5 separate regions of the Homo sapiens genome follow, and regions 1, 3, 4 and 5 are each linked to region 2. Evidence: fine-mapped expression QTL. A gene starts in region 2. Each other region holds a variant in brackets. All regions are shown on one strand. Distances are between the middles of the regions. Region 1 has its middle 21 kb from the start of ELK4. Region 2 holds the start of RAB29 (RAB29, member RAS oncogene family). Region 3 has its middle 4.0 kb from the start of SLC41A1. Region 4 has its middle 26 kb from the start of SLC26A9-AS1. Region 5 has its middle 16 kb from the start of SLC45A3.

Region 1 (5,957 bases), 120 kb before region 2:
CTTCTCACATCATCCTTAACACCCACCTGCACACCAAAAGCCTCTGGGCCAGGCCTTTAACTCTGTTTCAATGTGGGAGAGATTAGAGAAGATGCATGTATATACAAGATACACAGTTCTGAACTTGCATTGGAAATATCAATATAAACTCACAATGTAGTTACATTTTTCAGCCTTGCACTGTGGCTGAAGCCTATAATCCCAGCACTTTGGGAGGCCGAAGTAGGAGGATCACTTAAGCCCAGGATTTGGAGACCAGCCTGGGCAATATAGTGAAAGACCCCACCTCTATTTAAAAAAAAAAAAAAGAAAGAAAAAAGAAAACAAAAAACATTTCCTGGGCACATGTTCTCAGGGCCTCCTGAGCCTGTGTCACAGGATATGATCCTTACACACAAAATCACAAATTTCCTAGCTTTGTCAACGGAAAAAGCCTAAAACCAATGACCAACTCAGTAACAACAAACACTTCTGATGGCCATGGTATTTATGGTCTCTAAATCTCATTTCCATAAGAAGCAACCAAAGACCCTTAGAAGAAATAGCTCATTCCAGGTCTGTGGCAGTAAAAATACAAGCTAATCCTGCACATCCAGTCATGCCAGAAAGCAAAGAAGCTTTGAAAGATCACTTAGTGAAGACTGCAGTGAGCCATGAACGCACCACTGCACTCCAGTCTGGGCAACAGAGCAAGACTGACTTCAAAACACAACAAAACAAAGACCATTTAGGATTGTGTCAAAGGACTCAGAAATCAACTTGAAGAGGCTCCCACTGGCCAAAGATGGGGACAATTTGAACATGAATAAGGATAACAACTGCAAAGGATTTAAACACAACAAATATGTTTAAATCCATGAAAACATCATGAAACTAAGGAAGAAACCTCTGCCATCATCAGGGGATGCTAGGGAATCAATTCATTATTTTGAAAACTGGTGCGTGGCTGGGCGCAGTGGCTCATGCCTGCAATCCCAGCATTTTGGGAGGCCAAAGCATGTGGGTCACCTCAGGTGAGGTGTTCGAGACCAGCTTGGCCGACATGGTGAAACCTCGTCTCTACTAAAAATGCAAAAATTGGCTGGGTGTAGTGGTAGGTGCCTGTAATCCCAGCTACTTCGGATGCTGAGGCAGTACAATTGCTTGAACCTGGGAGGCGGAGGTTGCAGTCAACTGAGATAGCACCACTGCACTCCAGCCTGGGCGACAGAGCAAGACTCCATCTCAAAAAAAAAAAAAAAAGAAAGAAAGAAAAAGAAAACTGGTGGGTACAAGGAAGGAGGTATGCACTTGTTGAAGAAACGATAGAATATCCTATGATAGATAGATAGAAAGGATAGACTATCCTATGATAGATAGAAATGATACAATATCATATGATAGATAGAAATGATAGAATATCCCATGATAGATAGATGGAAATGATAGAATATTCTATGGTAGTTAGAAATGATAGAATATCCTATGGTAGATAGATAGAAATGATAGAATATCCTATGATAGATAGAAATGATAGAATATCCTATGATAGATAGAAATGATAGAATATCCGATGATAGACAGAAATGATAGAATATCCGATGATAGATAGAAATGATAGACTATCCTATGATAGATAGATAGATAGAAATGATAGAATATCCCATGATAGACAGATAGAAATGATAGAATATCCTATGATAGAAATGATAGAAGGCCGGGCGCGGTGGCTCACGCCTGTAATCCCAGCACTTTGGGAGGCCGAGGCGGGCGGATCACGAGGTCAGGAGATCGAGACCATCCTGGCTAACACGATGAAACCCCGTCTCTACTAAAAGTACAAAAAATTAGCCGGGCGTGGTGGCGGCCACCTGTAGTCCCAGCTACTCGGGAGGCTGAGGCAGGAGAATGGCGTGAACCCGGGAGGCGGGGCTTGCAGTGAGCCGAGATCATGCCACTGCACTCCAGCCTGAGCGACAGAGCCAGACTCCGTCTCAAAAAAAAAAAAAAAAAAAAAAGAAATGATAGAATATCCTATGATAGATAGAAATGATAGAATATCCCATGATAGATAGAAATGATAGGATATCCTATGATAGAAATGATACAATATTATATGACAGAGAGAAATGATAGAATGTCCTATGATAGATAGAAATGATAGAATATCCTATGATAGATAGATATACATGATATAATATCATTTTACAACCCCTGTGAAATAATGGATCTAAGTAAAGTTATCAATGACTGCAAACACCGAAAACAGAAGACAACCACTGGCCTGGGCTACTTTGTGAGACCCCGTCTCTACAAAAAAATACAAAAATTAGCCAAGCAGGCCGGGTGCGGTGGCTCAGGCCTGTAATCCCAGCACTCTGGGAGGCCGAGGTAGGCAGACCACCTGAGGTCAGGAGTTCGAGATCAGCCTCACCAACATGGTGAAACCCCATCTCTATCAAAAATACAAAAATTAGCTGGGCATGGTGGCGAGCGTTTGAACCTGGGAGGCGGAGGTTGCAGTGAGCCTAGATCACGCCATGGCACTCCAGCCTGGGTGACAAGAGCGAAACTTCGTCTAAAAAAAAAATTAGCCAAGAGTGGTGGTGCACACCTGCAGTCCCACCTGCTCAGAAGGCTGAGATGGGAGGATCACCTGGCCCCAGGAGGTCGTGGCTGCAGTGAGCCACCACTCCAGCCTGGGTGACAGAGTGAGACCCTGTCCCAATAAAAGAAAAAAAAAAGCCCAACAGTATATGCTCCCTTATATGGAAGTACAAATCTATTAAGTATTCTTGCAAAAACAAACAAACCAAATCTGTTGTCTCTGACTTTAATTACCAGTTTACAGAAAATACAGGGGCAGTAAAAAAAATTTACCATGGGAATACAGATGGTCTAACAGAAACTCCGTTTAACAAGTAAAGAAAAAATAATCGAGGACATACCTTTGGATTAAAAGATTACAAGAGAAATGGGCACGGTGGCTGAAGCCTGTAATCCCAGCAATTTGGGAGGCCAAGGCAGGTGGATCATATGAGGCCAGGAGTTCGAGACCAGCCTGTCCACAACGTGGTGAAACCCCGTCTCTACTAAAAATACAAAAAAATTAGCCGGGCGTGCTGGCAGGCACCTGTAATCCCAGCTATTTGGAAGGCTGAAGCAGGAGAATCGCTTGAACCCAGGAGACGGAGGTTGCAGTGACCGAGATCGAGTCACTGCACTCCAGCCTGGGTGACAGAGTGAGACTCCTTCTCAAAACAAACAAAAAAAGATTACAAGAGGATTTAATAACAAGATTACAAGAGGATTTAAGAGACATATCAGCCCGTGGCAATGTATGGAATTTATT[C/T]AGATTCCAATTTGAAAAAAACTATACCCCCAAACATTTATGAGGCCGGGAAATGTAAACGGTGACTGGATATTTGCTTATCTTAAAGAATTACTATTCTTAGGTATCATCATGGTAGCGTGACTACTTAAAAAAAAAAAGTCCTGGCCGGGCTTGGTGGCTCACGCATGTAATCCCCCAGCACTTTGGGAGGCCGAGATGGGCAGATCACCCGAGGTTAGGGATTCCAGACCAGCCTGGCCAACATGGTGAAACCCCATCTCTACAAAAAATACAAAAATTAGCCAGGCATGGTGGCTCATGCCTGTAATCCCAGCTACTTGGGAGGCTGAGACAAGAGAATCACTTGAACCCAGGAGGCAGAGGTTGCAGTGAGCAGAGATCGTGCCATTGCACTCCAGCCTGGGCGACAAGAGTGAAACTATGTCTCAAAAAAAAAAAAAAAAGAAAAAAAAAGTCCTTATCTTTTAGAGATATATTCTGAAATATTTCCTAATGAAATATGCTATCTGAAATTTGCTTCAATGTTATGTAAGAGGAATGTACAGAAGTATTGATGAAACAATGTTGACCATGAGCTGGTAATTGCTGAAGATGAATGATGAGTACATTGGCATTCTTTATACTCTTCTCTCTGCTTTTGTAGGTATTTAACATCTCCATGACAAAAAGTTTAAAACAGGCTGGGCGCGATGGCTCACGCCTGTAATCCCAGCACTTTGGGAGGCCGAGGCAGGCAGATCACTTGAGGTGGGGAGTTTGAGACCAGCCTGGCCAACATGGCAAAACCCTGTCTCTACTAAAACTACAAAAAAAAAAAAAAAAAAAAAATTAGCCAGGCATGGTGGCATGTGCCTGTAGTCCCAGCTACTCAGGAGGCTGAGGTGGGAGAATCACTTGAACCCGGGAGGTGGAGGTTGCAGTGAGCTGAGATGGTGCCACTGCACTCCAGCAGCCTGGGCAACAGAGTGAGACTCCATCTCAAAAAAAGAAAAGTTTAAAACAGCATTTTGAATATATGTCCCTAACTGGATATATCCCAAGGACTAAAACAACCACAAAGAAATCTTAAATTTCATTTAGTAATGTTATTGTCAGCAATATATTACTATTGTCACTTTGGAAACTTATATAGACTGAATGATAAAGCATATAAGTAATTATGTTAATATGACTAGGAACCCAAAATTTCAGCTCACTGCAACCTCCGCCTCCCGGGTTCAAGCGATTCTCCTGCCTCAGGCCCCCGAGTAGCTGGGACTACAAGTGCACGCCACCACGCCCAGCTAATTTTTGTATTTTTAGTAGAGACGGGGTTTCTCCATGTTGGCCAGGATGGTCTTGATCTCGTGATCTGCCTGCCTTGGCCTCCCAAAGTGCTGGGATTACAGGCGTGAGCCACAGCGCCCGGCCCCTGCAAAATATATATATTTTTGAGATGGAGTTTTGCTCTTGTCACCCAGGCTGGAGTCCAGTGACACGATCTCAGCTCACTGCAACCTCCACCTTCCGGGTTCAAGTGATTCTCCTGCCTCAGCCTCCCAAGTAGCTGGGATTACAGGCATGCGCCACCACGTCCAGGTAATTTTTGTACTTTTAGTAGAGATGGGGTTTCTCCATGTTGCTCAGGCTGGTCTCAAACTCCTGACCTCAGGTGATCCACTCGCCTCAGCCTCCCAAAGTGCTGGGATCACAGGCATGAGCCACCGTGCCCAGCCACCCTGCAATATTTAATTTGACTTGGAACATCAGTATTAACTTACTTTTTGTTGTTTCTGAAAGATAAACATCTCCTAGCTATGCCCACTGAAAAGACCTAAAAAAAAAAAAAAAAAAAAAAAGGCCAACCTAGTAGCAACCCTGTACTCAGATTGTGGTCCCTGACATGCACCAGAGATTGAGAAATGGCCAAGTCCATGTCTGGGGCAGGAAATGGACAAGATGAACTTGAGCTATCTTGTGCCTAAAATCAAGGAAACATCAAAGGCTACTGGAGTGGTCAAAAGAACACAGGAAACATCCGGAAGGAGGTCCCAGATGGACAGCTTGAGCCTCAACAATACCAACTGCAATGGATTGAAACACAAATGCATGAAATCCACAAGTTTGTAATGATAATTAATTTAAAACAATAACCTCACTGATCACCTTTGGTAGCTGTTAGAGCATCATCTGATTACTCCAAAAATTGGTAAGTGATGGGATAGTATCAAGCATTTATCATAGTTTTCCCATACAAACCATATTTTAGCATAATCAAATAATGAATGAGGAAAACATTTTCTTTATGGAAGACTCATACCGAATAAGTAATTAAGGAGTGATAGAACTAGAAAATCATAAATTTGCATATCTAATGCAATAGAATCTAGGCAATGATCATCAATGGTTTAGGAGAAGGGTTAATGAGACACTTTATAATGGCCAACATGGGCAACATCTCTACAAAGATAAAAACTAGCTGGTGTGGTGGTACACACCGTAGTCCTAGCTACTTGGGAGGCTGAGGCAAGAGTATTGTTTGAGCTCAGGAGGTGGAGGCTGTAGTGAACTATGATTGCACCACTGCACTCAGCCGGGGTGACAGAGTGAGACCCCGTCTCCAAAAAAACCCACAAACCGTATA
Region 2 (5,957 bases):
TCTCCAAAAGCAGTAGCTTTTATGATAGGGTTGATGTGAGGATTAATGAGTCAGTGAATTTAAAATACTTAGAAGAATGCTTGGCACATAGTAAGGATTCACTATTTTTACTGTATCTATTTTCTGGGGATCTTGTTTTTCACCAAGGTCAGCCTTAAACCTAGAAAAAGCACCCTCCCCTGCTGTGGGAGTGTCCACCTATAGTCTGGACAATCCACCACCTTGCCAGCCCCTCCATCCACATAGAGACTGCTCCAGATCTATTCAGGGCAAAACATCTACAAAAGCTCTGCACCTATTCAGCTCATGTGTCCTCAGAGCAGCTCAATCATTCCAGCTTCAGAAAAACAATTTCTGGCTTTGCTGCCCCATTTTTTCCTCAGAGCTTTCTAGTTAAATCAAAATTTCTTCCCTTGTTCCTATCTAGCCCTCCCACTTTACCTGCAATATCCCACAGCTGAAGCCGCACTATCTCGTAGTCAGACCACTGGAGAACCTTCAGAGCAAAATCCACTGAAAATATATGTACATTATACTTTAATAAAATTTCACTGTAAAAAATTAATAGGGATAAACTCAAATCAAATAGGCAGTGAAACCCTATGGACACACAACTCCAATCCCATATGTTTAACTTTAAGCCCTCAATTCACTGAGATGAGTCCACATGCGTGTATTTAGTGTGAGATGGATGATTCATACTCACTCTCCAAAGGGGTTTCCAGCTTTTACTCTACTGTCAAGCTCATTTATTTGCTACTGTTTGTCTCCAAGACTGGGGGTGGGAGTAACTATGAAAACAATTCTCATTCTCAGGTTAAATAGTTTCTGGGAGATTTAGGGGGTTTTCTCAGGGAAGGGGTGATGGGGGAGAAGGGGGAAATGAGACAAGTGTGGTTGCTTTCGTATCTTCCACATTCAATTTCACTGTTGGTTTCTAATCAAATTGTATTATGAAAAGAACACACCCTGGGGAACTCTACATCCACCATAAGGTTGCAGGTATTATCTTGGGCAAGAATGGAATAAATGGAAAAGGTCCCAGAGGAGTCCCAAGAAGAAGACACTGTGTGGATGTTGCTGAAGAGTCCTGCTGGAATCTACCACCAAGTCTGCAGGTGCTGAGACTCCTTAAGGCTGAGTAAGTATTCCATGGGGAAAGCCTTTTGGCTAAGGAGAGAAACAGAGTAATTTCTGAGGTTTGGAAATATTATCTTTCACATCTGTGACAGGAATCAAAGCTAAGGGAAATTTAGACTAAACACTGAAAAAAAAATTAGCCAATTATATTCTTTGCTAAAGGAAAACTACAGCAATTGTTAAAAATTAACTATTAATAGCAGGCCACTTTTAACCCAAATCCGTGAAATAGGGACCCTTATATTATTTAGGAGTGGGAGGGCAGAGCGGTCAGGATAGAGTGTCTGAAACTTTGAACCTTTAATTTTGCCAGACTTAAATTTTTTGTTCCTTTGTTTTTGAGACAGGGTCTCACTCTGTTGCCCAGGCTACAGTGCAGTGAGTGGTGCGAACGGGGCTCACTGAAGCCTCGACCTCCCCAGTTCAAGCAATCCTCTCGTCTCAGTTTCCCGAGTAGCTGGGACCACGGCTACTTTCTTCTTTAATTTTTGTAGAGGTGGGGGTCTTGCCATGTTTCCCATGGCTGGTCTCGAACTCCTGGGCTCAAGCAATCCTCCCGCCTCAGCCTCCTAAAGTGCTGGGATTGCAAGTATGAACCACGGTACTGGGCCCTACTGGGGGTTCTTAAGGAGAATGTTTTAATTGCAATGTAAATGTTTGTTAATTTCTTTTTAAACTTCCATATGAACAGGAGCACACATTTTCAATTTTTCCATTGGTACGAGTTTTCCCCCCTTGAAACAAGTTCTTTTAACAGAGAGAAATAAAATTTTAAGTTACTCTCCCCCATCACCAGCTCTTCCTAGCTAAATACCTTCTAATTAACAATAAGGCATTTCTGCCTCTGAAAAAATAGTTGAGTCCAAAGGCCACACCCGGGAAAGAAATGAATGAACTCGGTGTCCCCTTCCTCCCTACCTTCTCCAGTTTGAGGAAAAAAGTGGTGGGAAGATAGGTCAGAGAAGTGGTATATTTCACATTCTTGGAAGAATTCCTTGGTTACCTTTATTTAAGCAATCAACGGACAAAAACACAGCTCATCAGCCCTCATGGGCATCTGACTGCGTAGCCAAGGGGCTCGTTCGGGGATTTTGTGTCTTCCATCCCACCCACAGCCCCACAACAAAGCTACAGTCCTTCAGACCAGTTCCGCTTCCTGCGTTCTCCCACTGAAGCCAGGTTAAACACCTTGCGGTTCCTCCCTCAACAGAGGGGCAGGACTACAGCCCCAGCCGGCACCTAACCAGGAGGCCCCACAGAGGATCTCAGCTGCTTCTGCTGATTGGAGAGATTTGCCGGACAGCTGAAAGGCTGGAGACTTAAGTTCACAGTACGCCTGCAATAAACAGCAATTGCTCATCCTCATCCTCCCTTCCCTATTTCTCATCTTCACGCCTTTGCTCTTACCTTTCTCCTGGCAGTGGGCTCAGTTTGGGAAAATCTAACGGGAAACTCAAGAGAGGCGTGTAAACCAAACACCCGGCAATTACACCATCTAGGTTCCCAGACAGTACTTCCTGACCCGAAGAAGGACCCAACAACCGACAGCAAATCCCCACCCCACTTGGGTCCCCAGCTCGAGTCCGCGGTCGGGGCCTCCTCCTCCCCCTCCCCCTCCCCACCCCCGAGACGTCTCACCTCCCACCGTGGACTTGTAGTGTTTGCTGAAGCTGTCCTGGGAATATCGCTGCACCAGCGACGTCTTGCCCACTGCGGCGTCCCCCACCACCAGCACTTTGAACAGGTGGTCGCGGCTGCCCATGGCTAGCGGGGTGTGCGTTTTAGGGAGGCGGGAAGTGTGGTCGGGGATCGGGGGTCGCTCGTTTTAACCCCTTTGGATCCGGACCCTCTTCAAACTGAAGTGAGGCATTCCCACCCACCGCCTGTCTGGGCTGCTCTGACGAGAAAGCAAAAAAGGAAACTTTGCACTCAACCTATACGCGCTTCCTCCCCGGGCGGCCGCAACCTGGGTGGGGCGCAGGGCGCGAGCTCCGAGCCCCCGGCTGTTCGCACCTTCCCCACCCCCTCCTGGCCTGACTGCCGAGAAACTGGACCAGGCGCCGCGGAACCTCACCCACCGGGACTTCCCCCGAGCGGCTCCAAGTCAGTGACTGAATCCCAGTCAGCTCCTTACACCACTGGGGCCAGATGATGGGGACCCTCCCCTTGCAGCACAAACCAAATTGTGAGGAAGGAGCAGCCGGCACCTCGATTCCCTAGACGCCCTCCCGCGCGCCTCTCTCTCCCCTTCCTCCGCAAGCGTCACGTGCAGGGTTGCCTGTGGCACTACATTTCCCAGCTTTCCTCGCGGTAAAGAGAACCAGCCGAGTGCGGAGGCTCACCGCGAAGCCTCCTGGGAAATGTAGTATATTCGTTATTTTGTTTTAAGCAAACCTACACCAAGTTTCAAGGCTTCAAACTCCCTCGACAGTTTGGAATCTTATTTTGAAACAATTCTAGGTCAGTAAAGATCCCTTAAGGGGAGATTTGTGCAACGTGATCTCACTGGCCTGAATCCATCCCCAGATAGTTTTCTCCTGTCTTTAAAGGTTTAACTGAGTTAAGATTGAAACTTATTTCATTAGTAAAAGCCCAAGCCTCATCCATCATGCTCCAAGTGAAGTCCATTTCCTATTCCTTCAAGTAGATAGACAAGCCCAGGACTTTGTGAAATGACTCATATTTTCTGTGTGAACTTGCCCAATACCAGGCAAGTTCAGGAAAACTTGACCCAAGAGACCAGTCTTTGGAAAAAAACCTATGCCAAAAATTACAGCATTTAATATCCAGCAATAACAATAAAGATGGACAGAAAACAAGAGACAGTTCTCCATTCATACTTCTACAATGCCTATTCTAGCCATACTACTCATGTATCACTTGAGCTAGAAGCTAATTGAAATACACTGGGACTCCTTCTTGATTTGTTGTGGCTGTTGTTAATAGATAATCATAAAACTAGTGTTTGGCAAATAATTTTAATTTCTCAGCCTGTAACTTTACTGACCTACCTGTCACTTGGGTAGAAGTTGGCAGGACATGAGCTCAATGGCAAGCAAAGAGAGCTCCATTTTCTATACTTTTCTAGGAATAGAGGAAGAGAACCAGCGGGGCCATGGGAAAACAGCCCAGGACCAGACACTAGGAAATCTAGGTCTCTTGATAGAGAGGCTATCACTTATGTTTTGTGGCGAAAGAACATCAGCATGGTTCACAATATATTTTGCCCAGAATGTTCGTTACCCAGGTACAGGAGGTTAGTTCAAGCTACTCATCTTTAAGGATCCAGTTTTCTCTGTTCTTATTCGTTTTGACATAGTTGACCACTCCTTGACATTTGTTTCCCTTATGCCTTCTATGACGCTGTTCTTTCTTTGTCATCCCCGTACTTCTCTGATGATTATCTTTTTCTTTCAGGTTTCTCTCCATCCCATTTCCCGCTAAGTATTTCCTAAGGCCTGATTCTTGGTCTCTGAGTCAATCATTCGATAAACTCTTTAGTGAATTGTCCTTGGTGTCAAAGATCTATCTTCACTTTATTTGTTCTTTATCTCTGATCAGTGATATTCTGTCAAGACCAGCTCTGTTGGGGAGACCCTAACCCAGTGGCGCTAGAGGAATTAAAGACACACACACAGAAATATAGAGGTGTGAAGTGGGAAATCAGGGGTCTGATTTCCTTTAGAGCTTTTAGAGCTGAGAGCCCCGAACAGAGATTTACCCACGTATTTATTAACAGCAAACCAGTCATTAGCATTGTTTCTATAGATATTAAATTAACTAAAAGTATCCCTTATGGGAAACGAAGGGATGGGCCGAATTAAAGGAATAGGTTGGGCTAGTTAACTGCAGCAGGAGCATGTCCTTAAGGCACAGATCACTCATGCTATTGTTTGTGGCTTAAGAATGCCTTTAAGCGGTTTTCCACCCTGGGCGGGCCAGGTGTTCCTTGCCCTCGTTCCTGTAAACTTACAACCTTCCAGCGTGGACGTTAGGGCCATTATGAACATGTTACAGTGCTGCAGAGATTTTGTTTATGGCCAGTTTTGGGGCCAGTTTATGGCCAGATTTTGGGGGGCCTGCTCTCAACATGTCCCTCTTCTCTGATTTGCAAATTGATAAATGCAAAGGCAGCTTTGTCACGGTGAGCTACTTCTCGCAGGAGTCAGGATACACATCTGCAGACTATACAAAGACAAACAACACAGATTAAAAGCACAATCATCATTGAAATCACAGAGCTTCCAAGTGTTTTTATCCATTTTCGGCTCCTTTAAGCACTCCAGTTCCTGGCATTAAGGTCAAGTGTGCCTCGGATGCTTTAAATATTTCTTCTTTTAATTTTAAATCCTTATGTTAAGCTCCTAGAGCGGGCCATATCATTTGAGGTTGAGGTGTCACTATACTGCCATGGTTCCAGATAATAGGAACTCTTGCTGTACTTCTTATTATATCTACCATCTGACCATTTTGTTCAGACCAGCTGAACATAGTGTGGCCGTGGCACGCAGACTGAGAGGTGCAATTCAAGCTAAACATCCCCTTAGGGGACCAATTAATAATGATTCCATAGGAATCATTGTGCAGCATCTCTGCCTGTTCTGCAATGCAATCTTCCTAAACAAGTACGTTCATTTTTTCTAACTGGGTCCAATCCTGTTTACAAATAAGTTTTTGAGGGCGGTATGCCTCAATTATAGGAGCAGATTTATTATGGTAAATACTGAGATCAGAAAGCATGTGTAACTGCGTCATAAAGTGATTGCATCCAGGCATTATTGCCAGCCAAGATTGATAAATATACCCAATAAGTATAA
Region 3 (5,957 bases), 42 kb after region 2:
AGCGGAGATGTGCCTGGGGAGAAGAGATCGCAGTGCTGTGTATGAAGCTTTGGGCACGTGCTCACAAGAGCACACACAGCAACCTGAGCAGGTCATTCCTTTTGATAAGGATGACAAATACACATACCAAACCCTGTTCCCCTCACCCACCCCAAACCAGTACCCCCAGGATGATTCCAGATCAGCTCTGGAGCATTTGCATCAAGGGCCTGCAGACTCACAGGACCTACTAGAGCAAAATATCAGTGTCTCAGACCCCAGTTTTGGCCTCAAATACTGGGTTTTTCTGCCAGGAGAAGTAGCTGCTAGTCTAGGAAATGCTGGGACTTGTCCAGAAAGATGAGGTTTGTGAATACGGGGTGTGGGGTTGGGTGGGGAATTAAGGCTGATGTATCTGGAGGAACTTTGGTTGGGCTGGAGGCAACTTCTGCCCTGTTCTATTCAACAGTTCCCTCCCCTCCACTACCCCATTTAATCTGGCCACAGCTCAGCTACCTGTGTATAAAATCTTGATCTCTCTCCTATTTCCTTTCTACCTTCCGTGTTTTTACTTACTCGAAAACTGTTCCCCTCTCCTGTGTGTATTTTTTTAATTGAAATATACCAGGCATTTAGGAAAGGAACACGAAACCTAAGTGTACAGGTCAACAAATGATGACACAGTGAACACCCCCATATGACCACCATCCAGATCTAGAACGAGATCATTATTGGCATCCCAGATACCCTCCTTCTATCCGCTCCTGGTGACTATGCCACACTCCTTCTCAAAAGTAACGTTTATCTAACACTACAGGTTAGTTTTGCTTACTTCTGAACTTTATATACATGGAACCATTCAGTAGGTATTATTTTGTGTCTGGCTTCTCTCACTCAATACTATGTTTATGAAACTCATCCAAAACATTGTGGTAGCAGTAGCTTATTTGTTTTCATTGCCGTACGGTATGCCATTAAATAAATATACCACAATTTATCTGTTATTCTGTTGACGGACATTTTGGTTGTTCCTACTTTGGGGTTATTATGAATAAGGCTGCGATAACGTTTTTGTTCATGTCCTTTGGTACACTTACGTTCATATTTATACTAGATATATACCTAGGAATAGAATTACTGGGTCATAAAAGGATATGCATATTTTTAGCTTTAGCAAATGCGACTAAACAATTTTTCAAAGTGCTCATATTAATTTACACTCCTGCCAGCAGCGTCTTAGTGTTCCAGTTGCTCTATATTCTCATTAACACTTGATATTGTCAATCTAGAAAAATTAAAAAATTTAGCCATTCTGGTGGGTGTATAGTGGTATTGTAGTTTAAATTTGCTTTATCCTGATAACCAATGAAGTTGACCACCTTTCCATGCATTTATTTGACCCTTGGATATCTGTTCAAGTATCATGTCCATTTTCTATTATTCTATTCCTTCTGTCTTACTACTTTTTTTTTTTTTTTTTGAGATGGTATCTTGCTCTGTTGCCTAGGCTGGAACCTCTTGGGTTCAAGTGATTCTCCTGCCTCAGTCTCCTGAGTAGCTGGGACTACAGGCACATGCCACCATGACAGGCTAATTTTTGTATTTTTGATAGAGACAGCGTTTCACCATGTTGGCCAGGCTGGTCTCTAACTCCTGACCTCAAGTGATCCGCCCGCCTTGGCCTCCCAAAGTGCTGGGATTATAGGTGTGAACCACTGAGCCCAGCCCTGTCTTACCACTTTGTAGGAGTTCTTTATGAATATCAGATACGAGTCCTTTGTTGGTTATAGGTATTGCAAATATTTCTATGAGTAAATAAATACAAAAGCCCTTGGTTTTGGTGTCTTCTGAAGTGTCAGGGCCACTGGAACAAGAATATAATCTCTATATCTATTTTGATCACTAGTGTAAACCCAGCTCCTGGCACATAGTAGGTACTTAATAAATATGTTGAATGAATGATGGATGAGGTGGATAAAGCTGATGTAGGTACTTTGCTCTGTATTGTGCTGATCCCTAGAGTCAAACACCAAGAGGACCTGGGGGAAGCAGATTTCCTCTGGCTTAGCCAGCTGTGACCTTAGGAAGAGGAAGACATCCTGGCCCTTCTCTACTGAAAGAGCAGAAATAGCTACAGTCTGTGAAATGATGAGCACAGATGTAGGGAGCGGAGGTCACAGATGAAAAGACAGGAACTACCAGCAAGTAGCAGGCCAGCCAGATACTTCAGAAGGAGAGACGCAGTTGGGGGTATCAAAAAGATAGTGAGGGTCTCTGAGCATCACTGTGGACCTTTGTATGACAAGAACCTCCAAAGGTCATGTGGACTCTCTCTTGCCTCAAGACATGCCCAGTCTTTGAGCTTGTTAGCCAAGAGAGCTCTTCCACACCTAGAAACACATTTCTTTCTCCAAAGGAGGTTCCCTGAAACTTTGGTTGGAGGGTCTTATTCCTAACCTGCATTGGGCAACTCTTTTTTTAAAATCAGCTTTAACTTCCTCATGGCCTGTAATGTCCATCCTGAATATGGAAGACCACCGAATCAGCCTCTTCTCCATGCACTGTTTTCATAGGCCTGTTGCATTCT[A/T]CAGCGTTTTTCTCTTGCTGTGTTTCTCTCCAGCATCCTTGACCAGCTCTGGTCAAGAGTCTCACTGATTCCTGTTACTCTGGGAGACAGAAATTTCCCCTTGCACCACCCTAACAAACTCACAGCATCCCCTCCTCATGTCTTTCAGAACATAATGTGGCATTTAACTAGAAGCTAGTAGTAGCACCCCAAATTTTTATATAAACTGAGCTTGGGGACGCCATCTAGTTGGAGAGAGGCTGGGTGACTTGTCATGAAACATCATTTGTATAGCAAGCACAGTGTTTTCATTTAGAATATGAGCATATGTTGGGTGTGGGGTGGGAAAGAGTGTTGTGGCAAAAGGAATTGTTGATCACTCCACAGGCAGGGGCCTGTGGAGGAGCCTGTGTGGGAAGGTCCTCTGTGGGGCAGCATTCTTCAGTCTTGCTTGGCACTTGTCCTAATATGTGGTTAATTTAGCCTCTATCCTGAGGTTCTCTTAGCCCCATGGCCTTCCTTCTGGGCCAAGTACTGTCTACCAATGGCTTCTCCATAGACTACCTGAATACTCATCTTGAGACATCATAAAATTCCAGAGCCCCATAGATCCTGGACCCCCTAACCAGCATGGCTAGTTGTAAGACTAGCCTGACGTGGCTGGAAACTTTTCTATCTTTTGTTCTGTGGGGGAGGGTGCCCCCTCCCATTTTTCCCCTTGCTGTGACCCCTCCGCTGCTCCCTCCCTCCCAGAGGTCAACTTCTTTCCTGCTGCCCAGAGCTGAGGTGACATCCCCTTCCGGCTTCATTCAGTTTTAGGAGGATGTAGTGATGGGGGTGGGATAGGGAAGTGTGGCCATCTGTGCTCAGCACTGTCATCATTCCCTTTGCTTCTCTATAACTGAGCTCCCTTTCCCCAAAGCCCCCTGGATACCCACCCTGGGATTCCCTTAGGCAGGATGGTTCCAGGTATTTGGAGCTGCAGCTCTGAATTTACTGAGTATAGCTGGGAAGCCTTGACAGCAAACAAAATGGTCTGGTGAACTATAACTGGGGATAGAAAAGTAATCTTTGAGAGGCAGTGCTGCAGAGTGGAATATGCCACAGCATTGTAATCACATGGATTTGAATCCATGAATGGCTCAGCAATTCATTAGGCACATGACCTTGGGCCATGTCTATCAAATGGAGACATAATTCCCTTTCTGCAATATATGTTCCATGGTGAGCAGTTCTATGCAAACCTACCCCCAAAGTCTGAGAAAGCTCAGAGGCCAAAGAGGCTGACAAATCTGGTTTCTTGAAAGAAGCATTTAATAGGGACTTGCGAACAGAAGCCCTGTCTATATCCCGGACAGCAGTAAGACCAGGGCTTGAATACCTTATAAGGAAGGAATACCTATACCTTACAGGGAAGGAATGTGTAGGACAATTGTAGGGAAAGGCGAGAATGCTATGTGAAGTTCCCTAAGGGCAGGATTTATGGTCAGTTGTTTTAACCTAAGAGCAGGATTTATGATAAGTATATGGTCTTACCAAGGAATAGTAGATAAAATAGAAATCTTAGAGGCATTTCCAGAACTGGAGTTAATCAGAAGTCAACATGGTGGATTAGCATCCAAGATGGAGTTGCATTAGCCTTCACAGATGATGAGAGGATTAGGATAATATAGCATTTGGAACATTCCCTGCACGCAGTAGGACTGTTAAGATCTCACCAAAGAGAAACAGCCAATAAACAGGGATTAGGCACTTGGAACGGGCAGCTCAGGCTTTTTCTGGGCCTCACGTGAAATTTTAGACTTCCCAGAGTGTGAGGGCATGCCTACCTGGAAAGGGTTAATGATGGACAGTCTCTTACATAGATGCAGGTAGGAGCTAATAGGGGCAGCAACCCCACAGTGGGTCACAAGCCAAAGATGAGCAAACTTTATCTTGCAAGAGCCAGGATGCAAAAAGACTGTATCTTGCAAACCAGATTACCTAGTTTCAAACTGCCCTCTGTGTTTACTGCCTACTGCTCTAGGATTATCCTCTAGACCAGGGTTTCCTAAACTGGCCTGGTCATAGGAATCACCTGTTGGGAACTTCTTTTAAAATATAGATTTCCAGGCCTCTTTCCTGGAAATTCTGTTTCCAAACGTCTGGTGCTGGGCCAGGAAACCTACCCTTTTAAATAAGTGCCCCAGGTGACTCCCATGATCCTACTGGGTTGGGAAACTGCCCCAGTCTGGTGGTTCTCAGTCCTGGCTGCATATTAGAATCTCCTGGGGAGCTTTAACAAAAATATACCTTTGTCACAGGAGGAAACACTGTGACAAAGGTATATTTTGTCACAGGAAGGCAAGGCTCAGGAAGTCTTCAAAGACATGGAGGTGCTTTGATTGAATCTGACTGTGTGGGTTTATATGCAAACTCATTTAATCCTAATAATTACCCTAGGAGGTAGGCTGTTGCAATATATCAGGTGGAAAATGAGGTCAGTGGGTTGGAGAATGGTAAATAGATTTAAAAGTTATTTAGGTTAGTTGTTAGAGAATTGCAAATCAAAACCACAATGGGATACCACTTCATATCCAGTAGGTTGGCCATAAAAAAAAAAGAGAGAAAATAACAGAAAATGACAAGTGTTGGTGAGAGTGTGGAGAAATTGGAACCTTGTCCATTTGCTGGTGAGAATATAATGTGGTGCAGCTGCTATAGGAAACAGTTTGATGTTTCTTCAGAAGGTTAAACACAGAATTACCATATCACTGAGCAATTTCATTCCTAAGTATATGCCTAAAAGAATTGGAAATGGGAAAGAATTATTCCAGTTAGAGAGAACAGAGTGAAATGGCAGGAAGGCAAGGGAGAATTTGGCATTTTCAAGGAACAGCAGGTTCTTCAACATGTGGTTGGATGCACGTAGGGACGTGTTAAATGAAAGATGAAATGGTAGGCTTTGGTGATATGTTACAGAGCTGAAGGCTTCTTTGACATGAACGTATTGTTTTATGCTTGATCACAAAGTCCTTGAACACAGAGACTTTATATTTTAAAATTTATATTAATTTTGAAATACCTTATATTTTAAAATTTCTGTGATGTTTGCTGACACCTTGTAATTTACACATCTGGGCCTTCTTTCTCTGTCAGACCGTTACATATGGAGTCTCATTCACTTGCATAGTGTCCATTTATGATGCTCTGTTCATGATGCCCAAATATCTTTGTCTTAGACTTCTCTTCTGAGCTCTGAACTTGGATGTCTCAGCACTTCCAACTTGTGATATCCAAAATGCGCTAGTTCTCTCCCAGATGTCTATTTCTTATTCTGTCTTCTCCATCCCAGAAAAGAGGATTCCCTCGCCCATTTGTTTGTCAGCCATCTGGGAGTCATTCTTGACTCCTTCCTCTACTTCCCCGCCTC
Region 4 (5,957 bases), 130 kb after region 2:
TGAAGCAATCAAAAGCAAAACTACTAACATTGTAAGAGAATTCAGTAAGTAATCTGGATGCACAATTAATATACAGAATTGATAGCCTTTATGTATGTAAACAACAACAACCAGTTAGAAAATACAATAAAAGAAATTCCATTTATAAAGGCAGTAAAAAACATTTAGGGTTAAACTTAAGACATGTGTAAGTGCTGGCTGGGCATGGTGGCTCACGCCTGTAATCCCAACACTTTGGGAGGCTGAGGCGGACAGATCACTTGAGGTCAGGAGTTCGAGACCAGCTTGCCCAACATAATGAAACCCCAGTCTCTACTAAAAATACAAAAATTAGCTGGGTATGGTGGTGCATGCCTGTAGTCCCAGCTACTCCGGAAGGCTGAGAGAGGAGAATCGCTTGAACCTGGGATATGGAGATTGCAGTGAGCCGAGATCACGCCACTGCACCCCAGCCTGGGCGACAGAGCGAGATTCTGTCTCCAAAAAAAAGAAGTGTGTAAGAGGTATATGGAAACACTTATGAAATTATCAAAAGAAGACTTAAACAAATGGGAAGAAATACCATATTCTTAAATTAAAAAAACCTACAGTGGTCCCCCACTTATCTGTGGGTAACATATTCCATCTACCCCCAATAGATGCCTGAAACCTTGTATAGTACAAAACCTTGTTTATAGTATTTTTTTGCTGCATATATGTGTGTGTGTGTATATATATATATATGTATATATATATATATATGTGTATATATATATATGTATATATACATATATATATATGTATATGTATATATATGTATATATATACACATACATATTTTTTTGAGACGGAGTCTCGCTCTGTCGCCCAGGCTGGAGTGCACTGGTGTGATCTCGGCTCACTGCAAGCTCCATCTCCCAGGTTCACGTCATTCTCCTGCCTCAGCCTCCCGAGTAGCTGGGACTACAGGCGCCTGCCACCATGCCTGGCTAATTTTTTTTTTTTGTATTTTTAGTAGAGATGGGTTTTCACCGTGTTAGCCAGCATGGTCTCGATCTCCGGATCTCGTGATCCGCCCGCCTCAGCCTCCCAAGGTGCTGGGATTACAGGCGTGAGCCACCGTGCCCGGCCTTTTTGCTGTATATATTATACATACCTATGATAAAGTTTAATTTACAAATTAGGCATAGTAATATATTAACGACTAATAATAAAATAGACCAATTATAACAATATACCAGCATCACAATGCTTGTACTTTGGGGTTGTTGTTATTATTATTATTATTGTTTGAGATGTAGTCTCCTTCTGTCACCAGGCTAGAGTGCAGTGGCACGATCTGGGCTCACCGCAACCTCCGCCTCCTGAGTTCAAGCAATTCTCCTGCCTCAGCCTCCTGAGTAGCTGGGACTACAGCCGTGCACCACCACGCCCAGCTAATTTTCGTATTTTTAGTAGAGACCAGGTTTCACCATGTTGGCCAGGATGGTCTTGATCTCTTGACCTTATGATCCGCCTGCCTCAGCCTCCCAAAGTGCTGGGATTACAGGCATGAGCCACTATGCCTGGCCTATTTTGGAGCTATTACTAAGTAAAATAGGGGTTACTTGAACACAAGCACTGTGATACCGTGACAGTTAATTTGATAACTGAGATGCTACTCAGTGACTAATGAGCACATAGTGTATAAGCATGGATATGCTGGACAAAGGGGTGATTCACATTCCAGGCAGAACATACACCAGGATGGTGCAAGATTTCATCATGCTACCCAAAACAGCATGCAATTTAAAACTTATGAATTGTGTATTTCTGAAATTTTCCATTTAATATTTTTCAGACCAGGGTTGACTGCGGGTAACTGAAACTGTGGAAAGTGAAACCCACAGTTTCAGTTATCCGCAGTAAGGACTGACCTTCCTCTATATCTTGTAGGGTCCATCCTCACCTAGAACATAAAGATGTACTTGGGGGCTATTATAGATGTACTTTGGGGCTAACATAAAGATGTTTTAGGCTTATAGCTTTTGCTTTCTTATTAAATTTTCATAGGTTTTCTTGAATAGATGTGTCTTCATTTGCTGTTTGCCCTTGGGACTATTTCTCGAGGCTTTATTTTATTTTATTTTATTTTAGTAATTTTCACCAGTTTCACAGGGGAGCTGGTCAGTGGAACTCCTCACATTGTCATGCCACTTCTGCAGTGTGCCCTCCTCTGGGGGCCAGTAGCCACTACACCTTTCCAGAACTCAGATGTTGGGATGACAACATCAAGGGAAACCAAGGATGTTGGGAATTCCAAGATCAAGGTGCTGGCAGATTTGATGTTGGTGAGAGTCCTCTTCCTCTTCCATAGATAGCTGTCATTTCACTGTAACCTCACACGGCAGAGGGTGAGATATCTCTGGGTCTCTTTTATAAGGGCACTAATCCCATTCATGAGGACTCTACCCTCATGACCTAATCACTTCCCAAAAGCCCTTAATACCATCACCTTGGG[G/A]GTTAGGATTTCAACATATGAATTTTGGGGCAAAACACACAGTCTCTAGCAACTAGAAAGCCTTTCTAATTCTCTCTCTCTCTCATCATCGTTGGTATGAGCTCAATTCTTGTTTTTAATGGTTTAAAATTCATCCTTGTATTTAATTATTTTGGTGCTTAAATTGCACGTAGAGACCACTTTGATCTGGTTCCTGTGACCTTGTAACATACTCCCATCAATTTTTTGGAACAATTCCTTGCTTTCTGGTATAAAAATATGTTCCAGACTTATCTTGTATCCAATCCTATCCCCGCCTTGGAATCAACCATTTCTTTTAAGAAGTTCTGTCTCCTTTTAGAAAGGAATGGTGTTAGAAGCTGAAATCTGGGTACTAGATTTGTTCCTTTTTACTGGGTGTCATTACTTCTTGGAACTTTCAGCAGTCAGCACTAGGAAATATATCCATGTACACACCATTGTTCTGGAGGCTGGGAAGTCCAGGATCAAGTTGCTGGCAGATTCGATGTCTAGTTAGGGCCCTCTTCATGCATTGCTTAACAATGGAGACACATTCTGAGAAAAGTCTCTTTAGGTGATTTTGTCATTGTGTGAACCTCATAGAGTGTACTTACACAAACCTAGATGGTATAGCCTACTATACACCTTGACTACATGGTATAGCCTACTATACACCTTGACTACATGGTATAGCCTATTGCTCCAAGGCTAGAAGCCTGTACAGCATGTTACTGTACTGCATACTATAATACAATGCTAAGTATTTGTGTATCTAAACACAGCAAAAAGTACAATAAAAATACAGAACTATAACCTTATGGGATCCCATTGTATATGCGATTGTCATTGACTGAAACATTGTTATGTGGCCCAGGGCTACATACCCGTACATACAAATGTACATACACACATATATACATATTCATACATATACATGTGCACATAAACAGGCACACAAACATACATATACAATTTTGAGGAAATTGTAGAAAAAGGTGAGAAGCGAGTGTTCTTAGTTATAGTAGGATGCCTATTAGGACTAGTAAATGTAGAGGGTGTGCTGGGATTGGAGAATCATCATTTTGCAATCATCGTAGTATTGATAGGATCAGACAAGAATTGTCAATGGATACTTAACCTAGGGGAAATTTTAATGAGCAGCAGAATATTTGCATGGTCTTAAAGTGTGTCCTCACAAACTATAAGTTGCAAGGGAGAAAAAAAAAACAACCCCAGTAATCATATAGTGGAGAAATCAGGCAATACCCCCAACTGAGTAATCAAAATTAATTTCACCTATGAGAGACTGGTGGCCATTATGTGCTTCCAGATGTGTTAGGCAGAAAAAGACAGAGCATTTCCTATGGAGTATTCTGGGAGAAAATGCAAAACCTCAGTATAATCATAAGGAAATATCAGACAAATGCAAAATGAGGAATACAAAGAAAGGGTGGGTGAACCACAATCTTAGAAAAATGTCAATGCTGTAAAAGACAAAGACGAGTTGTAGACACGTTCCAGATAACAGGACACTAAAACACATGCAACTAAATTCAGTACCTGGCCGGGCATGGTGGCTCATGCCTGTAATCCCAGCACTTTGGGAGGCCGAGGCAAGAGGATTGCTTGAGCTGAGGAGTTTGAGACCAGCTTGGGGAACATGGAGAAATCCTATCTCTACAAAAAATACCAAAAATTAGCCAGGAGTAGTGGTGTGCACCTATGGTCCAAGCTACCTGGGAGGGTGAGGTGGGAGGATCACCTGGCCCCAGAGGTTGAGGCTACATTGAGCTGTGATAGCTCCACTGCGCTCCAGCCTGGGCGATGGAGTGAGACCCCGTCTCAATAAATAAATGAAAAAAAGAAAATAAATTCAATACCTGACTTTAGATTAAATCCTGTGCTGGAGAGGAAAAAATGCTTCATTAGATAAACTGACAAAATTGGTATATGAATGGTAGATTAGATAAAAGTATTGGATCAATGTAAATGCATTAAGTTGATAACTGTACTGTGATTATGTAAGACACTATCTCTCAGGAAATACACACTGAAGTATTTAAAGTTAAAGGACTTCATCCTCAAATGCCTCAGAAAAAAGTTATGCATGTCCACAGAGAGAAAGAAAAGAGACATAAGCCAGTGGTGGTGGCTCATGCCTGTAATCCCAGCACTTTAGGAGGCCGAGGCGGGCAGATCACCAGAGGTCAGGAGTTCGAGACCAGCCTGGCCAACATGGTGAAGCCCTGTCTCTACTAAAAATACAAAAAAATTAGCCAGGCCTGGTGGCAGGTGCCTGTAATCCCAGCTATTCAGGAGGCTGAGGCAGGGAGAATCGCTTGAACCCAGGAGGCAGAGGTTGCAGTGAGCTGAGGTCACACCATTGCACTCCAGCCTGGGCGACAAGAGTGAGACTGTCTAAAAAAAGAAAAAGAAAAGAGAGACAATGAAAGAGTAAATGATAAAGCAAATGGGGTAAAATGTTAACCATAAGTGAACCAGATTAAAGAGCATACAGTGTTTATTATGTGATTTTTTTTTTCTTTTTGAAAACAGGGTCTTGCTCTGTTGCCCAGGCTGGAGTGCAGCGATGCGATCATAGCTCATTGTAATCTCAAATCCCTGGACTCAAGTGATCCTCTTGTCTCAGCCTTCCTGGTAGCTAGGACTATAGGCATGTGCCATCGTGCACAGCTAATTTTTAAAAATTTTAAATTGTCTTTGTAGAAATGGGGGGTAAGGGTGGGGATCTCCTTTTGTTGCTCAGGCTAGTCTCAAACTCCTGGCCTCAAATGATCTTCCTGCCTTGGTCTCCCAAAGTGCTGGTATTACAGGTGTGAGTCACTGCATCCAGCCTCCTGTGATACTTTTAGTTTTGCAACTTTTTATTCGTTTGAAATTATTTCCAAGTAAAAAGTTTGTTTAAAAAAACCTCTTATTTAAACAAAAATCTTTGTTGAAGGAAAAGTGTTTACTTCCAGCTCTGGAAGTAAGAAGTAACTCGCATAATTCTAAAGAATCTGCTTTCATGTTATGCAATTTAGAGACAGAAGGTCTTAGTGTCATCCTGTTTGATCTACCATCTAGAGCAGGAGCTCCTCTGACAACATCCCTGGCAGGTGGTTAGCTTACCTCTTCTTGGGCATGTTCAGGGATTCACAGTCTTAAAATTACCCCATTCCAGTCTAGAATGGTGAGATGGCTGTCTTACAAATGCTTCTATACTACCTCAATATACGACTAATGCCATGTTGTAGTTAGACAACTACATAGGTTACAGTGGGTTTGGAAGATGAAAGGCTAAAGAAATGTACCCAATTCAGATGCTACTTATGTGCCACTCAAAACCCTCCTACTAAGCCTCTGTTGGAATAATGGTTCTGGGTGGTCTTATCTGCCAGCCCCTCCCAGGAGCCATGCCATACCTCTTCCTTCTTGCAGGTGCGTCATTGATGCCCTAGCATGGGTCACCTTGGGA
Region 5 (5,957 bases), 78 kb before region 2:
GTGCAACAGCCTCTGGGAGGAGAGAGGGTTCCCAGGGCTCCCACTTGGGGTGGGTCGCCTCTGTCTTGGAGAGCTGATGTCTGGAAGTCCAGCTACTTTAACCATGCCACCCTCCCTACCTTCTGGAGAAAACTAAGCCCAGGAAAAAGGGAGGTCAGAGGAGCTGCCACAGGGCAAGTGGCTCCTGGGGGGGCTTCCCTCTGTGGGGGCTTCCCTCTGGGGGCTCCTTCCCTAAAACGCTTAGGAGGTGTACAGCTCCCTCAAGCTCTCTCTGGGCTCCAGGAGGCTGGCAGTGCCTCTGCAGCCAGAGGTAAAACAGAACCTTCTGAAGCATGCAGCAGAGAGCCCTGAAAGAGAAACAGTCCCCTGAGGTTGGCCTGTCCTCTCCTTGCCACCATGCAGTCTCTTAGACAAGCTCCTTATTAGAATCCGTAAAGAGTCAGATGGGAAATATTGCAGGGGCTATATGGTCTCCATCGCAACTACTCACCTCTGTGCTTGTAGCACAGAGCAGCCACAGATAATACAGAAATGAATGGGTGTTGCTGTGTTCTAATGAAACTTTATTTATGCACACTGAAATTTAAATTCATACAATTTTCATGTGTCATGAAATATTCTTCTTCTTTTGATTTTTTTCAACCACTTAAAAATGTAAAACCATTCATCGCTCAGGGACCATACAAAACCCAGCAGTGTGGCTGGGCGTGGTGGCTCACGCCTATGATCCCAGCACTTTGGGAGACCGAGGCGGGTGGATCATGAGGTCAGGAGATCGAGACCATCCTGGCCAACATGGTGAAACCTCATCTCTAATAAAAATACAAAAATTAGCTGGGCGTGGTGGCATGCGCCTGTAGTACCAGCTACTCAGGAGGCTGAGGCAGGAGAATCGCTAGAACCCAGGAGGCAGAGGTCACAGTGAGCCAAGATCACGCCACTGCACTCCAGCAAGACTCTGCCTAAAAAAACCAACCAACCAAACAAAAAACAAAAACAGAAAACAAAACAAAACAAAACCTGGCGGTGGCCTGGATTTAGTCTGTGGATGGTGGCATTCTGTTTATCCCTCCATCAGGGTTGCCTCGTATTGCAGCCTCCTTAAATGAAGAGCATGATACAGTTGATTAAAGGAATGGAGGCAAGATTATTGTGTAACGGCACCCAGACTCTGTTTTACTATCTCTGGATAACCACGTGGATTATTTTTAATCCATATCTATTTTGCACTTTCATGTAATTCTCTCCTCCTCACCACAATCTTAGAAGCTAAGCGATAGCATTTCTGTTTTACAGATGGGGAAAATTAAATTCAAAGAAGTAAAGTAACTTGTCTGGGATTACACAGCTAATATATGGCAAACCTAGGATGCAAACCTAAACTTGTCTGGTTTATTTTGTTCCTATACTTGGTTTTCTAGTCTCCGAGGCCAGCGTTCTGCCCACAAATGGGCCTTCTCCAATCTCACTGCAATATCAGAGGGATTCATTTATCACCCAGTGAAATATTTGGCTGGGTGCAGTGGCTCACGCCTGTAATCCCAGCACTTTGGGAGGCTGAGGCGGGCAGATCACGAGGTCAGGAGTTCAAGGCCAGCCTGACCAACATGGAGAAACCCCGCCTCTACTAAAATACAAAAAAAAAAAAAAAAAAAAAATAGCTGGGCATGGTGGCGTGCGCCTGTAATCCCAGCTACTCGGGAAGCTGAGGCAGAAGAGTTGCTTGAATCCCGGAGGCAGAGGTTGCAGTGAGCTGAGATTGCACCACTGCACTCCAGCCTGGGCGACAGAGTGAGACTGCGTCTCAAAAAAAAAAAAAAGAAAGCCAGAGTACGAGAGGCGTAAATGGGGTGAGATAAGTGGGCAGAAACTAGACCATATGTATTTCATTCTCACACAACAGGAAGACATTAGAAGGAGTCAAGCAGAGGAGTAACATGATGTAATTGACTTAAAAAAAATTTTTTTTGAGACAGTGGCTTCCTCTGTTGTCCAGGCTGGAGTGCAGTGGCGCCATCATGGCTCACTGTAGCCTCAACCTCCCTGGCTCAAGTGAATCTCCTGCCTTAGCCTCCCTAAGTGCTGGGACTTATAGGTGGGAGCCACTGCACCTGGCCATAATGTACATTTTTATTTTTATTATTTATTTATTTATTTTTTTAGACAGAGTCTCTCTCTGTTGCCCCTGCTGGAGTGCAGTGGCGTGATCTTGGCTCACTGCAACCTCCGCCTCCCAGATTCAAGCAATTCTCCTCAACCTCCCGAGTAGCTGGGACTACAGGCACACGCCAACATGCCCGGCTAATCTTTTGTATTTTTAGTAGAGACAGGGTTTCACCATGCTGGCCAGGCTGGTCTCAAACTTCTGAACTTGTGACCTGCCTGCCTCGGCCTCCCAAAGTGCTGGGATTACAGGCATGAGCCACCACGCCCGGTCTACCCATAATGTACTTTTTTTTTTTTTTTGAGAGGGAATCTCGCTTTGTTGCCCATGCTGGAGCGCAGTGGCATGATCTAGGCTCACTGCAACCTCTGCCTCTTGGGTTCAAGAGATTATCCTGCCTCAGCCTCCTGAGCAGCTGGGATTACAGGCATGCGCCACCATACCCAGCTAATTTTTTTTGTTGTTGTATTGTTAGTAGAGACAGGGTTTTGTCCTGTTGGCCAGGCTGGTCTCGAACTCCTGACCTCAGGGGATCCTCCCACCTTGGCGTCCCAAAGTGCAAGGATTACAGGCGTGAGCCACCATGCCCAGCCCCATAATGTACATTTTTAAAGGTCATTTTGGGAGGTATAAATTTGGCTCCAGTTAGGACCTGAGAGGTGCCAGAGGCAGGAAGAGTAGATGAGAGCAGGAAACAGAGACTCGAGAGCCTATAAGCCCGACTTTTTTTTTTTTTTTTTTGAGACAGGGTCTTGCTCTGTCACCCAGGCTGGAGTGCAGTGGCACAATCATAACTCACTGCAGCCTTGAACTCCCAGGCTCAAGTGATCCTCCTGCCTCAGGAGGGATCAATAAAACCAGTGAAAAAAGTAATGATTGGCACAAAGAAGTTTGGAATAGAACAGAAAATGTGCTGTGACCACTAGAGTGGTGGGGAGGGCCTTGAATGAGGTGGAAGGGCTCTTTTAGACTGGCCACATCCAAAGCAAACTCTGTCTCTATCCTCCTCCTTCTATCTCCCCTACCCCATGCCCACTCTGGAGGAGGCAAGACCGGAGGCCCAAAGGGCGATGGGAGAGAGAACTGGCAGACCA[C/T]GCATCCAGGAGCACAGTGGCCTGTTGCCCCTGGTCACCACCACCACTGGCTTCAAAGGCCAGGGGCTCTTCCCAGCCACATCTCTGGCTCCAGGGGGAAGCAGGAGGAAGTCAGGAGCTGGGAGGTGCCAGAGGCAGGAAGAGTAGATGACAGCAGAAAACAGAGACTCAAGAGCTTATGATCCCCTTCTGTTCCAAAAGACGCGAAGGGAGGTAACCCATGTTCAAAAGAAACAAGAGTGGGAACAAGGAAAGGAGGGTTCTATTTCCCCCCATTCCAGTGGCCTAGGGCTGGGGAACAGTCCCATGATGGGATCAAAAGGTCAAGTGTCTTCGTGAGATCAAAGGTAGCCCTGGGAGGAGGGCTGTGCAGGGCCAGGCACTTTCTGGAAGGCGTTGGAGGGACCAAGGACTTTGGCTGCTTGGGGTTTGGAATCTGAAGAGGGGGTGGTTTGGTGGATGGTTTGCATTTGCTGGGCTGGAGGAGAGGGGCAGGCGAGCATCTTGTCCAACACACCCTGGTAGCTGCTCCAAAGAGGGATGCACACTGTCTGTGTCAGGCCTTTAATAAAGTAAGGAGAAGCTCACCTTGAAAGCAGAAAAAACAGAGTGTGGAGTACCCAGCCAAGCAGTAACTGAACTAGTGACCCCTTGGGCCAAACCCTATTTGTGAATTCCTGCTCTGCTTTGAGGCAATCCCTATGCTCCAAAGAGGGGGCCTGCATCTAATTCAGTCCACTTCTGAGTCCAGTCTCCCTGCCTGAGTTCAGTCTGTCCTCTGTCTTACTCGTATGCCCCCTACAAGCTTTCTTTAAACCAAACTCCTTTTCAGAGGTCTTTCCTGACTAGCCAGCCCCAAAATCTTTTTCTTTTTTTTCTTTTTTTTGAGATGGAGTCTTGCTCTGTCGCCAGGCAGGAGTGCAGTGGCACAATCTTGGCTCACTGCAACCTCCGCCCCCCAGGTTCAAGCGATTCTCCTGCCTCAGCCTCCCTAGTAGCTGGGACTACAGGCGCAAGCCACCATGCCTGGCTAATTTTTGTATTTTTAGTAGAGACAGGGTTTCACCACATTGGCCAGGCTGGTCTCAAACTACTAACCTCAGGTGATCCGCCTGCCTCAGCCTCCCAAAGTGCTAGGATTACAGGTGTGAGCTACCAAGCCCGACTTTTTTTTTTTTTTTTTTTTTGAGACAGGGTCTTGCTCTGTCACCCAGGCTGGAGTGCTGTGGCACAATCATAACTCACTGCAGCCTTGAACTCCCAGGCTCAAGCGATCCTCCTGCCTCAGCCTCCTAAATTGCTGGGACTGCAGACATGAGTCACTGCACCCCTAATATCTATTACTTCTTTACTTGCCATTAGGGTGGGGAGGCAGAAAGGAAACTAATATTCATTCAGGGACTACTGTGAGTCAAGAACTTTATGTATCCTATTTTACTCATTGCTCAGGACTCTTATGAGAAAGATACTATTATATCTTCATTTTACAGGTTAGAAAATGTAGTCTCAGAGAGATTAAGTAATTTGCGCAGAACACACAGCTAAAAAGTGGTGGAGGCGGGGTTTGAATAAGGTGTTCCCAAAGCCCCTGCTGTCATCACTGTTAGAGCTGCTTCAGGATTCCTGTAACCTGCATGTATATCATTTCACACACTGTCCCATGCCATGTCCACTGTCACTCTCACCCATATATTATCATTTGTTCACTATATGTAATTTTGGCCTCCTGTAGTCCCAACTGCTTAATACTAATCATGACCATGCGTCCTTTGATCAATCCTTTCATCAGACTGAGCCTTGATTTTTGGCTCATTGTTCGTGGAAATGACCACCCCCCACCGTCATTCTTGCTTTCTTCCCTACTCCCACCTGGACTACAGTGCTAGAGCAGATTGTCCTGAGTCATTTCCAAGGAACACTGACTGAGGATCTGATGTGTGCCCGGCACGATACTGGCACTGGATAGACAAGCATGTAAAAACTTGATGTTCATATAAAAATGAACTGTCACATAAATGTCCATAGCAGCCTTATTTGTATAGCTCCAAATGGAAAACAACCCAAATGTCCTTTGACAGGTGAATGTTCAAACAAACTCTGGTACTAATATACCACAGATTACTACTCAGCAATAAAAAGGAATGAACTATATCTTTTTTTTTTTTTTTTTTTTTTTTTTTTGGACAGAGTCTTGCTCTGTTGCCTAGGCTGGAGTGCAGTGGCATGATCTCGGCTCACTGCAACCTCTGCCTTCTGGTTTTAAGCAATTATCCTGCCTCAGCCTCCCGAGTGGCTGGGACTACAGGTACACACCACCACGCCCAGCTAATTTTTGTATATTTTGTAGAGATGAGGTTTTGCCATGTTGCCCAGCCTGGTCTTGAACCCCTGAGCTCAAGCAATTTGCCCACCTGGCCTCCAAAAGGGCTGGGATTACATGTGTGAACCACCGTGCCCAGCCAGGAATGAACTATTGATTTATGCCATGACTTGGATGAATCTGTAGGGAATTATGCCAAGAGAAAAGCCAATCCCTAAAAGTCACATGCCATATGATTCCCTTTATATAAGGTTTTTGAAAGAAAATTTAGAATTGGAGGGCAGAATAGTAGTTGCCAGGAATCAGGTACAGAAAGGGGAATGGGAAGGGAGGAAGTGTGGTTTTAAGACGGCAACATAAGGGACCTCTTCATGTTATA

What was found. PIP is the estimated chance that this variant, and not a neighbour inherited with it, causes the effect.
Region 1: its variant is the best candidate, but not a certain one, in a credible set for the expression of RAB29 in fibroblasts (GTEx, PIP 0.52).
Region 3: its variant is the best candidate, but not a certain one, in a credible set for the expression of RAB29 in visceral fat (GTEx, PIP 0.76).
Region 4: its variant is the best candidate, but not a certain one, in a credible set for the expression of RAB29 in putamen (GTEx, PIP 0.84).
Region 5: its variant is the best candidate, but not a certain one, in a credible set for the expression of RAB29 in whole blood (INTERVAL, PIP 0.82).

The regions. Positions count from the first base shown.
Region 1 is chr1:205,649,816-205,655,772 of GRCh38, forward strand. No RefSeq gene overlaps it. Among named protein-coding and RNA genes, the nearest start is that of ELK4, 21 kb to the left of the region's middle. The variant C/T (reference allele first, on the strand shown) is at 3,332.
Region 2 is chr1:205,772,055-205,778,011 of GRCh38, forward strand. It overlaps RAB29 (RAB29, member RAS oncogene family), which reads right to left and starts at 3,428. Exons shown (of 6, transcript NM_003929.3): 1 at 3,219-3,428; 2 at 2,779-3,032; 3 at 442-513. The coding sequence starts at 2,902. RefSeq lists an enhancer at 2,293-2,342.
Region 3 is chr1:205,814,259-205,820,215 of GRCh38, forward strand. No RefSeq gene overlaps it. Among named protein-coding and RNA genes, the nearest start is that of SLC41A1, 4.0 kb to the left of the region's middle. The variant A/T (reference allele first, on the strand shown) is at 2,567.
Region 4 is chr1:205,905,769-205,911,725 of GRCh38, forward strand. No RefSeq gene overlaps it. Among named protein-coding and RNA genes, the nearest start is that of SLC26A9-AS1, 26 kb to the right of the region's middle. The variant G/A (reference allele first, on the strand shown) is at 2,480.
Region 5 is chr1:205,693,886-205,699,842 of GRCh38, forward strand. No RefSeq gene overlaps it. Among named protein-coding and RNA genes, the nearest start is that of SLC45A3, 16 kb to the left of the region's middle. The variant C/T (reference allele first, on the strand shown) is at 3,259.